Linked DNA regions of Homo sapiens: region 1 is linked to region 2. Evidence: fine-mapped expression QTL. A gene starts in region 2. The other region holds a variant in brackets. All regions are shown on one strand. Distances are between the middles of the regions. Region 1 has its middle 25 kb from the start of CHP2. Region 2 holds the start of CHP2 (calcineurin like EF-hand protein 2).

Region 1 (5,230 bases), 25 kb after region 2:
TACAAAGGACATGAACTCATCATTTTTTATGTCTGCATAGTATTCCATGGTGTATATGTGCCACATTTTCTTAATCCAGTATATCATTGTTGGACATTTGGGTTGGTTCCAAGTCTTTGCTATTGTGAGTAGTGCTGCAATAAACATACATGTGCATGTGTCTTTATAGCAGCATGATTTATATTCCTTTGGGTATATACCCAGTAATGGGATGGCTGGGTCAAATGGTATTTCTAGTTCTAGATCCCTGAGGAATCGCCACACTGACTTCCACAATGTTTGAACTAGTTTACAGTCCCACCAACAGTGTAAAAGTGTTCCTATTTCTCCACATCCTCTCCAGCACCTGTTGTTTCCTGACTTTTTAATGATCACCATTCTAACTGGTGTGAGATGATATCTCATTGTGGTTTTGATTTGCATTTCTCTGATGGCCAGTCCTGATGAGCATTTCTTCATGTGTCTGTTGGCTGCATAAATGTCTTCTTTTGAGAAGTGTCTGTTCATCCTTCGCCCACTTTTTGATGGGGTTGTTTGTTTTTTTTCTTGTAAATTTGTTTGAGTTCTTTGTAGGTTCTGGATATTAGCTCTTTGTCAGATGAGTAGATTGAAAAAATTTTCTCCCATTCTGTAGGTTGCCTGTTCACTCTGATGGTAGTTTCTTTTGCCGTGCAGAAGCTCTTTAGTTTAATTAGATCCCATTTGTCAATTTTGGCTTTTGTTGCCATTGCTTTTGGTGTTTTAGACATGAAGTCCTTGCCCATGCCTATGTCCTGAATGATATTGCCTAGGTTTTCTTCTAGGGTTTTTATGGTTTTAGGTCTAACATGTCAGTCTTTAATCCATCTTGAATTAATTTTTGTATAAGGTGTAAGGAAGGGATCCAGTTTCAGCTTTCTACATATGGCTAGCCAGTTTTCCCAGCACCATTTGTTAAATAGGGAATCCTTTCCCCATTGCTTGTTTTTGTCAGGTTTGTCAAAGATCAGATAGTTGTAGATGTGTGGTATTATTTCTGAGGGCTCTGTTCTGTTCCATTGGTCTATATCTCTGTTTTGGTACCAGTACCATGCTGTTTTGGTTACTGTAGCCTTGTAGTATAGTTTGAAGTCAGGTAGCATGATGCCTCCAGCTTTGTTCTTTTGGCTTAGGATTGACTTGGCAATGCAGGCTCTTTTTTGGTTCCATATGAACTTTAAAGTAGTTTTTTCCAATTCTGTGAAGAAAGTCATTGGTAGCTTGATGGGGATGGCGTTGAATCTATAAATTACCTTGGGCAGTATGGCCATTTTCACAATATTGATTCTTCATATCCATGAGCATGGAATGTTCTTCCATTTTTTTGTGTCCTCTTTTATTTCATTGAGCAATGGTTTGTAGTTCTCCTTGAAGAGGTCCTTCACATCCCTTTTAAGTTGGATTCCTAGGTATTTTATTCTCTTTGAAGCAATTGTGAATGGGAGTTCACTCATGATTTGGCTCTCTGTTTGTCTGTTATTGGTGTATAAGAATGCTTGTGATTTTTGCACATTGATTTTATATCCTGAGACTTTGCTGAATTTGCTTATCAGCTTAAGGAGATTTCGGGCTGAGACGATGGGGTTTTCTAGATATACAATCATGTCATTTGCAAACAGGGACAATTTGACTTCCTCTTTTCCTAATTGAATGCCCTTTATTTCTTTCTCCTGCCCGATTGCCCTGGCCAGAACTTCCAAGACTATGTGGAATAGGAGTGGTGAGAGAGGGCATCCCTGTCTTGTGCCAGTTTTCAAAGGGAATGCTTCCAGTTTTTGCCCATTCAGTATGATATTGGCTGTGGGTTTGTCATTGGCTTCCCAACTTATTGCTTCAGTGTGAACAGACCTGCTGTACATTCTGGGCCACTTTTTACTCTCATCCTAGGGATTCCCTTTCCTTTTTCCTGCTTCCACTGCTTCCTGGACCCCCTGTTTTCCTCTTTATAGCTTTAATTTCTCATTTTGATAGAGCAGACTACCTAGTAACCTCCTAAGAAAGAGTGCATTGGTGGTCAGGTGTGGTGGCTCGCATTTGTAATTCCAGCACTTTGGGAGGCTGAGGTGGGTGGATCATTTGAGATCAGGAGTTCAAGACCAACCTGGCCAACATGGTGAAACCCCGTCTCTATTAAAAATACAAAAATTAGCTGGGCATGTTGGCAGGTGCCTGTAATCCCAGCTACACAGGAGGCTGAGGCAGGAGAATTGCTTGAACCTGGGAGGTAGAGGTTGCAGTGAGCTGAGATGATTGCTCCACTGCACTCCAGCCTGGGTGACAGAGCAAGACTCCATGAAAAAAAAAAAAAAAAAAAAAAAAAGAGTGCATTGGTGAAAAATATTTGAGAGCTTGCATGATTTATAATGTCTTTATTCTGCCATTACGCTTGATGGTAAGGTGTCAGGGTCTAGAATTTTAGGTTGAAAATAGCCTTTCTCTCAAAAAAAAAAAAGGAAAAGTATTGCTTCATTTTTCTTCTAGCTTCTTATGATGCTCTTGAAGAGTATTAGTTTTTGTATGTGCCTATTATGTTTCTTTCCCCCACTCCTGAAAACTTCTAGGTGCCATTATTGGTGGCAGTTAAGTGTGCAAACTCTAGAAGCAGACTACCTGGGTTCAAATCTCAGTTCCAACAATCATTGGTTATGTGACTCTGGGAAATTTGTTTAACTGCTCTGTGCCTCAGTTTCCCCATCTGTAAA[G/GATA]ATAACAGTACCTACCTCACAGAGTTGCTGTGAGGATCAAATGACCCCCTACCTTTCTGTGCTCCTCTGTATCCGTTGATGTAAACCTTCCTCAAGTTGGGTTGGTTCCACACACCATTTCTGGAGAGGGGTAGGGTCTAGAACAAGGCGGGCAAGCTTTACCTGTGAAAGAGCAGATAGTAGGCTGGCTGTGGAGGCTCATATTTGTAATCCCAGCATGTTGGGAGGCTGGGGTGGGTGGATCACCTCAGGTCAGGAGTTCGAGACCAGCCTGACCAACATGGTGAAGCCCTGTCTCTAAAAAAAAAAAAAAAAAAAAAAAAAAAAAACAAAATTAGCCAGGCATGGTAGCACATGCCTGTAATCCCAGCTACTTGAGGAGGCTGAGGCAGGAGAATCGCTTGAACCCGGGAGGCAGAGGTTGCAGTGAGCCGAGATCACGCCATTGCACTCCAGCCTGGGCAACAAGAACAAAACTCCATCTCAAAAAATAAAAAAAAAAGCAGATAGTAAATAGTTTTGACTTTGAGAGCTATAAAGCTAGTGTTTCAGCTATCGAACTTTACCATTGTAGGGCAAAAGCTGCCATAGACAAAATAAAAGTGAATGAACCTGGCTGTGTTCCAATAAAACTTTTGTTTATACAGCTGCAGGCAGATTTGGCTCGCTGACCGTAGGCATCTGACTGTGAAACACTATCCTCTCCTTTTTGTACTTATTTTATCCGACCCTTCTTAGAGGTATAGAGATGACTCCTAGTTGGAGACATCTCAGACTAAAAACTGACTACCTTATATTATAACTTCTACACAGTGCTCTAAGTGGTCCGATGATTGAGTTATATCAAATGCAGGGTTTCAGTTGCAACATTAATGAAATAGCCTGAGTAAACCTTTCGTGATGACAAGAGCCAGCCACCAATTATCTCATCCCTGGATTGACATTATTGTAAGCCACAAAGTACCAAGCTTTCCTTGTGCTTAAACTGTTGAGGAAAATGCTTGACTCTTTTTTTTTTTTTTTTTTGAGACAGAGTCTCCCTCTGTCACCTAGGCTGGAGTGCAGTGGCACGAACATGGCTCACTGAATCCTTGACCTCCTGGGTTCAGGTGAGCCTTTCACCTCAGCCTCCCAAGTAGGTGGAACTACAGGTGCAAGCCACCATACAGGCTAATTTAAAAAATTATTTCTAGATACGAGGTCTTACTATGTTGCCCAGGCTGGTTTTGAACTCCTGGGCTCAAGTGATCCTCCTGCCTCAGCCTCCCAAAGGGTGGGTTTGCAGGCATGAACCACCATGCCTGCCCAGCCAACTCTTTCTTTGTAACATTTTTATACAAATAAAAACAGCCATGCTATGGCACTTTTATCCATTAATTCTAGGTCAAGTGACATGCTGGGACTGGAAAGATGAAAATCACTGTGTCACCCTCAAAGGTTTGAGTAAGCAAGCAATTTAGATAGAACATCCCCTGTGTCACAATAAAGCCCTTTTCGCCAATCAGATTAGCAAAGACTAAAAAACAAACAAAAGACACAATCAATGCTTGTTAGGACATGATGAAAAGGGCACTTTGTAGATTTCTGATGTTAAATAAATTGCAACCCAGTCTGACTACATTAACTCTGTGCTGTTATGTTCATCCCAACTCTGTTTTCTTTGTCTTTTCTTTTTTTCTTTTTTTTGAGACAGGGTCTTCCTCTGCCATCCAGGCTGGAGTGCAGTGGCATAATCTTGGCTCACTGCAATCTCTGCCTCCTGGGCTCAAGCAATTCTCCTGCCTCACCCTCCTAAATAGCTGGGACTACAGGTGCACACCACCATGCCTGACTAATTTTTTAGTAGAGATGGGGTTTTGCCATGTTGTCCAGGCTGGTCTTGAACTCCTGAGCTCAGGTGAATCTGCCCGTCTTGGCCCTCCAAAGTGCAGGGATTACAGGCGTGAGCCACCATGCCTGGCCCCAACTCTGTTTTCTGCTCTGGCCCTCTGTGTCTTGCCTTGGGGGTATGGGTGGGTAGATGGGGGGGAGTTTCCTCTTTGTTCCCCACTGACTCTTTTTTTTTTTTTTTTTAAGGTTATCTATTTATTTAGAGATGGAGGTCTCAGTATGTTGCCCAGGCTGGTCTTGAACTTCCGGGCTCAAACAATCCTCCCACCTCAGCCTCCTGAGTAGCTAAGACCACTGGTGACCCAACTGATTCTTGGGGAAGGCAGCCCCAAGTGAGTTGACAACAAAAGTGCCTCCCTAGCCTGGGGCCAGTGAGACCCCAAATATCACCCCCCTCCCTTCGCTGGGTTTTTCCTGCCCATCTTTACCTGACCATTGGTCACTGGAGGAGCCTCTTAAACCTTCTAACCGGGAACTGCTCCTGCTATTGTATTTTCACCCACCTACACAATTACTGGACCACAGCATCTCCTACCACGCTCTCACTTCTCACATTGTCAGTACATCCATCCCCAGTCCTTGCCTGCCAAATTCCCCCATCTGTCATCAACACCCCCCCG
Region 2 (5,230 bases):
CTCTCTCTCTTTCTTTTTTTTTCTTTTTGAGATGGAGTCTTGCTCTGTTACCCAGGCTGGAGTGCAGTGGTGTGATCTTGGCTCACTGCCACACCTGCCTCCCAGGTTCAAGTGATTCTCCTGCCTCAGCCTCCCAAATAGTTGGGATTACAGGCGCCTGCCACCACACCCAGCTAATTTTTTGTATTTTTAGTAGAGACGGGGTTTCACTGTGTTAGCCAGGATAGTCTCAATCTCCTGACCTCATGGTCTGCCCGCCTCAGTCTCCCAAAGGGCTGGCATTATAGGTGTGAGCCACTGTGCCTGGTCCAGCCCTCTCTTAAAAGCTTGTGTATGATGTGTGCATGGGAGTTCCTAATTACTCTCCGGCCTAATTTACTTTGGTGTAGCACTGACTCCAATATTAAGGCTGGAGAAGCCCTTTCCAAGATCAGCATCCCAAGCTGGCCTGCGGTGCTTATCACAGCTTCTTAGGGCTCTCATCTCCTCCTGGGTTCAGAACTGAACCCAAACTACATGCACAGCCTGACTCACAGCTGTGGGTTGCAGTGATTGCTGGGCTTCATTAGGGAGGAGTGTGGTTTCCCGCATGCTTAGTCTTTGGGGGGAGTCTGAAAGAGAATCAAGCATTCCTTATGCCAGTTGCTTAATCCTTGGGGGTATCTGAAAGAAGCAAGCACTTCTTAGATCAATATTTTCAAGACTTATCTGATGCAGGCCTCTGCCTGGGGCTGGAGGATAGACTGTTTCTTCAGCTTCTCTCTCTCCAGGGTGGATATGAACTTGAGCCCTTGCAATGAACTGCTTGCATGTTTTCCCCCCTGGGAAATTTGTGTATGTATGTGCAATTATGATGGGGGAAACGGTTTAAAGATACTTTCAAAAGTGGACACTTCTAGTGTTTGTCCCTTGACAAATGAGTTTCTCGACCTGTTTTTTTTTCATTATCAACGCCTCCCCTAGTCTTTTTAATTTCCCCACCCTCACCCCTACCCCATGAAATTTTATTTTCTTTCTTTTTTTTTTTTTGAGACCAAGTTTCGATCTTTTTGCCCAAGATGGTGTGCAATGGCGCGATCTAGGCTCACCTCAATCTCCACCTCCCGGGTTCAAGCGATTCTCCTGCCTCAGCCTCCCGAGTAGCTGGAATTACAGGCATGCACCACCACGCCCAGCTAATTTTGTATTTTTAGTAGAGACTGGGTTTCTCCATGTTGGTCAGTCTGGTCTCAAACTCCTGACCTCAGGTGATCCGCCCGTCTCGACCTCCCAAAGTGCTGGGATTACAGGCATAAGCCACCGCGCCCGGCCTCTTTTCTTTTCAAGACAGGGTCTCACTCTGTCACCCAGGCTGGAGTGTAATGGCGTGATCATGGCTCCCTGCAGCCTCAACCTCCTGGGCTCAAGTGATCCTCCTGTCTCAGACTCCCAAGTAGCTGAGACTACAGGCATGTGCCACGACACCTGGTTAATTTTTTTTTTTTGTATTCTTTTGTAGAGATGGGGTCTCACTATGTTGCCTAGGCTGGTCTTGAGCTCCTGGGCTCAAGCAATCCTCCTGCCTCTACCTCCCAAAGTGCTGGGATTACAGGCATGAGCCTCCACGTCTGCCCTGAAATTTCAATATCACAGCTATACTGTATATCTATTTATGTGCTGTATGTATGCTGTGCTTTGTACATAAAAAATATGTTTTATTTTTTGCCCCGTTGGGGTGAGATAGAGACCGCACTGAGAATGCACGCTTTACATAATTAGTTCACAACTTGCCCCCGGCAGCCTCCACCACGTAAAATTAGAAGAAAGCAGCCCAGCAGGGCCTACAAGGAATGTGTGAACGGATGCACGTAAAGTGCTTAGCAAAGCGTGGTAAACAAGAGCCCTTGTTGTCATTCTTGCTTTAAGCCTAGTCCCAGTGATGTCTGTAACCCTCTCTTGGGCCAAGGAGTCCCATGGCTCTGGAGGGCTGTTCAGAGGACTAAGTCATTCCCAGTCTGGAGCTCTACGGGATCAGTAGGTACCTAAGGGAGTGAATTGGGCTTGGAGGGACTGTGGCCAGAAGACAGCTCTGGGCCTGGTGGTGATAGAACTTCTGATTTCTCAGGAAAAGCCAAGAATGTGGATTTTGGGTTAAATCTCCTGAATTTTAAGCATTGGCTCAATTAAACAACAATAAGGCAATGTGAACCGAACAAAAGGGATGAAACCAAGATTTACTGACTTTCCCAGAGTCACGGGCACGGCTGGGATTCCAACAAGGACTCCCAAACCAGTGCTCTTTCCACTTAACCTAACGCACACCCTTCATCTCGCCGCCCCTCCCCACTTCCCCGTCTTTGGGAGTTCTTCGATGCCTCTTCCCCCCTCCCCCCAGGATTCCCTCCCCATAGGCCACCCGCCTTCCAGCAGGGCGTGGTCTCTACAGAGGAGGTCAGGTCTCCCAGGCTTCCTCAGCGTCGACGCCGGGGAGCGCCCTGGGGTTGGGAGCGCCCGGGGCCCGCGAAGGAGGAGGTGGCTCAGGTGTCAGGGCGCACCGTGGGAACCGGCCCCGGGGGAGGCGTGGAAACGCGGGGCCTGGGACTCGACCAGCCTCTCCCGTGCGGATCGCAAAATCTCGGAGCTGAAACAGCCCGTTGTTCGCAGCCTCCCTCTGACCCGCCACCCTGCACATTGTTTTCCATTCGCCCGGGTCGCGGGTGGGAGGAGAGGCACGCCGGGGTTCTGGAGCTTGGCCGCGCGCCAGGCTTGTGGCCTTCGTCCCCCTGGGGCCACTGGGGCGGCCACGCCTCTCCGGCGGGAGGAGAGAACGCGTGGGTCCGGGTGGCTGCTCCGGCCCTTCCGCCTCCAGCTCGGCCATGGGGTCGCGCAGCTCCCACGCCGCGGTCATTCCCGACGGGGACAGTATTCGGCGAGAGACCGGCTGTGAGTGCGCCCGCGTCGGCGGCTGCGGAGGGGACGGGGCGAACCCAGGCGTCTGGGGCTAGGGAAGGGGTTGGGTTGAAGGATGGACGAACTTACAAGTCTGGGGTCCGGGGCTCCCCGGAGCTGGAAGACCAAGGCCCCTGTGCCTGGGATCGCTGGGTTAGGGGCGGGTTAACCTAGGGGTCCCAGCCTCCAAGTCTGGGGAGGATCCGGGTTCACGGGGTCGGAGTCCAGAGGAATCCAGGCACCCAGGTGTCCTCCAGCCCGGCTCGAAGCTGAAGGCAGAGCTGACGGCGGTTGGAAGGGATGGCTTTGGTTCTTTGGTTTTCGGGAGGTTGCGAGCCGCCCGGGTCTTGAACCTGGATCTTCGCGGGGTCGTGTCACTCTCCCTCCGCCCCGGCCAGCTCAACCCCTGATTCCCCGGGATGATCGCCCCTTCCAGCCAGCCCCCGCTGTTCTGGCCCATCTTCCTGGCCTGTTGGGGCGGGTTTCTGGAGCTGGCCCTGCAGAGTCACACACCCCCACCCCACTCTCCTTCCCGCAGTCTCCCAAGCCAGCCTGCTCCGCCTGCACCACCGGTTCCGGGCACTGGACAGGAATAAGAAGGGCTACCTGAGGTGAGGGGGAGCCGGCCTCATAACTTCTGGCCTCTGTCTCTCTGACTCCATGTCCCTCTTTGACCCTCCGTCTGGCATCTCTGCCTTACCCTCTTTGAAATTTGGCTTTGCAGCCGCATGGATCTCCAGCAGATAGGGGCGCTCGCCGTGAACCCCCTGGGAGACCGAATTATAGAAAGCTTCTTCCCCGATGGGTGAGGCTTGCTGGGCGTGGGGAGGTGAAGGCGGGAAAACCGGTGTGTGAGTGGGTGGGAGGGGAGGTTAGAGACGGAGGCAAAGTGATGGCCAAGGTGACCACCACCTCTTTCCATTCTGTCCCGTCTCCCCAGGAGCCAGCGAGTGGATTTCCCAGGCTTTGTCAGGGTCTTGGCTCATTTTCGCCCTGTAGAAGATGAGGACACAGAAACCCAAGACCCCAAGAAACCTGAACCTCTCAACAGCAGAAGGAACAAACTTCACTGTGAGTTTGTGAGGACCTGCACAAGTGAGAATGCAGATGTACCCACACCAGGGACAGGCTCCAGGGATCTCCCACTCCCTTCCTGAGGGCATTGACAACCTCCCCCCTCCTCCAAGGTGGGGGGAAGGAAGGTGGCTGCTGGAAGAGAGCCAGGGAAGACCTACCTTCCTTTCCCCCTCCCACCCTCTCCCCAGATGCATTTCAGCTCTATGACCTGGATCGCGATGGGAAGATCTCCAGGCATGAGATGCTGCAGGTTGGCAGAAAGCGAGAGCAAGAGATGTGATGTGTGAAGGATGGGATGGTTAAATGCAATGGTGTGAGAGATGGGGTGGGATGATTGGGGAACTGGGGCGCAGATAATTGGGGTATTGGTTGGGAAATGGGAATGGGTGCAGTTAGAGTGTGGGTTTGTTGGGAGTCGGAGTGGGGAGCAGTTGACTATGAGGTTGGGAATAGATCAGTGATTCTCAACTGGGGGTGATTTTGCTCCCTGAGTGAATATCTGGCAATATCTGGAGATGCTTTTTGTTGTCACAATGGGGGAGAGAGTGTGCTACTGGCATCTAGTGGGTAGAGGTCAGGAATGTGGCTATATATCATGCAATACCCAGGAGAGCCTCTTCCAACAAGGAGTTACCTGGCTCCAAATGTCAACAGTGCCAAGATTGAGAAACTCTGGAACAGATGTGATGGAATGAGGATGGAATTAGAAACCCTTAGTGGCTAAGGTGGAGAATGGTGTGGAGGATGGATGGAGGTTGGGTGATAAAGTTGGGTAATGAGTTTGAGCATATTTTGAGGGTAGTGCAGGATGGTGAGGGAGAGATAGGAGATTGGTTGTTGAAGCAGTAGGGAAAATTATTGGGGGATATGGTGAAAAATGGATGAAGGATGGATTATAAAATTAGCAATAACTTTTGGGATGAGGTGGGCAAGGTTTAGGAGATGGGGAGTTGCAGCCTTCGTGCCCCCTCCTTATGGCTGCCTCTTCACTCATCTCTCAGGTTCTCCGTCTGATGGTTGGGGTACAGGTGACAGAAGAGCAGCTGGAGAACATCGCTGACCGCACGGTGCAGGAGGCTGATGAAGATGGGGATGGGGCTGTGTCCTTCGTGGAGTTCACCAAGGTCAGAGTGCCCTTGGGGATTGGGGAGTTGAGATCAGGAGTTCTGGGGCAGACAGACTTGGGAAACGTTCAACGGAGGAGGGCGGAAAGATAGGGGTTGCC

What was found. PIP is the estimated chance that this variant, and not a neighbour inherited with it, causes the effect.
Region 1: its variant is the best candidate, but not a certain one, in a credible set for the expression of CHP2 in lung (TOPMed, PIP 0.50).

What each region holds. Positions count from the first base shown.
Region 1 is chr16:23,777,176-23,782,405 of GRCh38, forward strand. No RefSeq gene overlaps it. Among named protein-coding and RNA genes, the nearest start is that of CHP2, 25 kb to the left of the region's middle. The variant G/GATA (reference allele first, on the strand shown) is at 2,721.
Region 2 is chr16:23,752,195-23,757,424 of GRCh38, forward strand. CHP2 (calcineurin like EF-hand protein 2) reads left to right here and starts at 2,832. Exons shown (of 7, transcript NM_022097.4): 1 at 2,832-2,922; 2 at 3,467-3,539; 3 at 3,653-3,733; 4 at 3,869-3,999; 5 at 4,194-4,255; 6 at 5,007-5,129. The coding sequence starts at 2,856. RefSeq lists an enhancer at 2,720-3,365.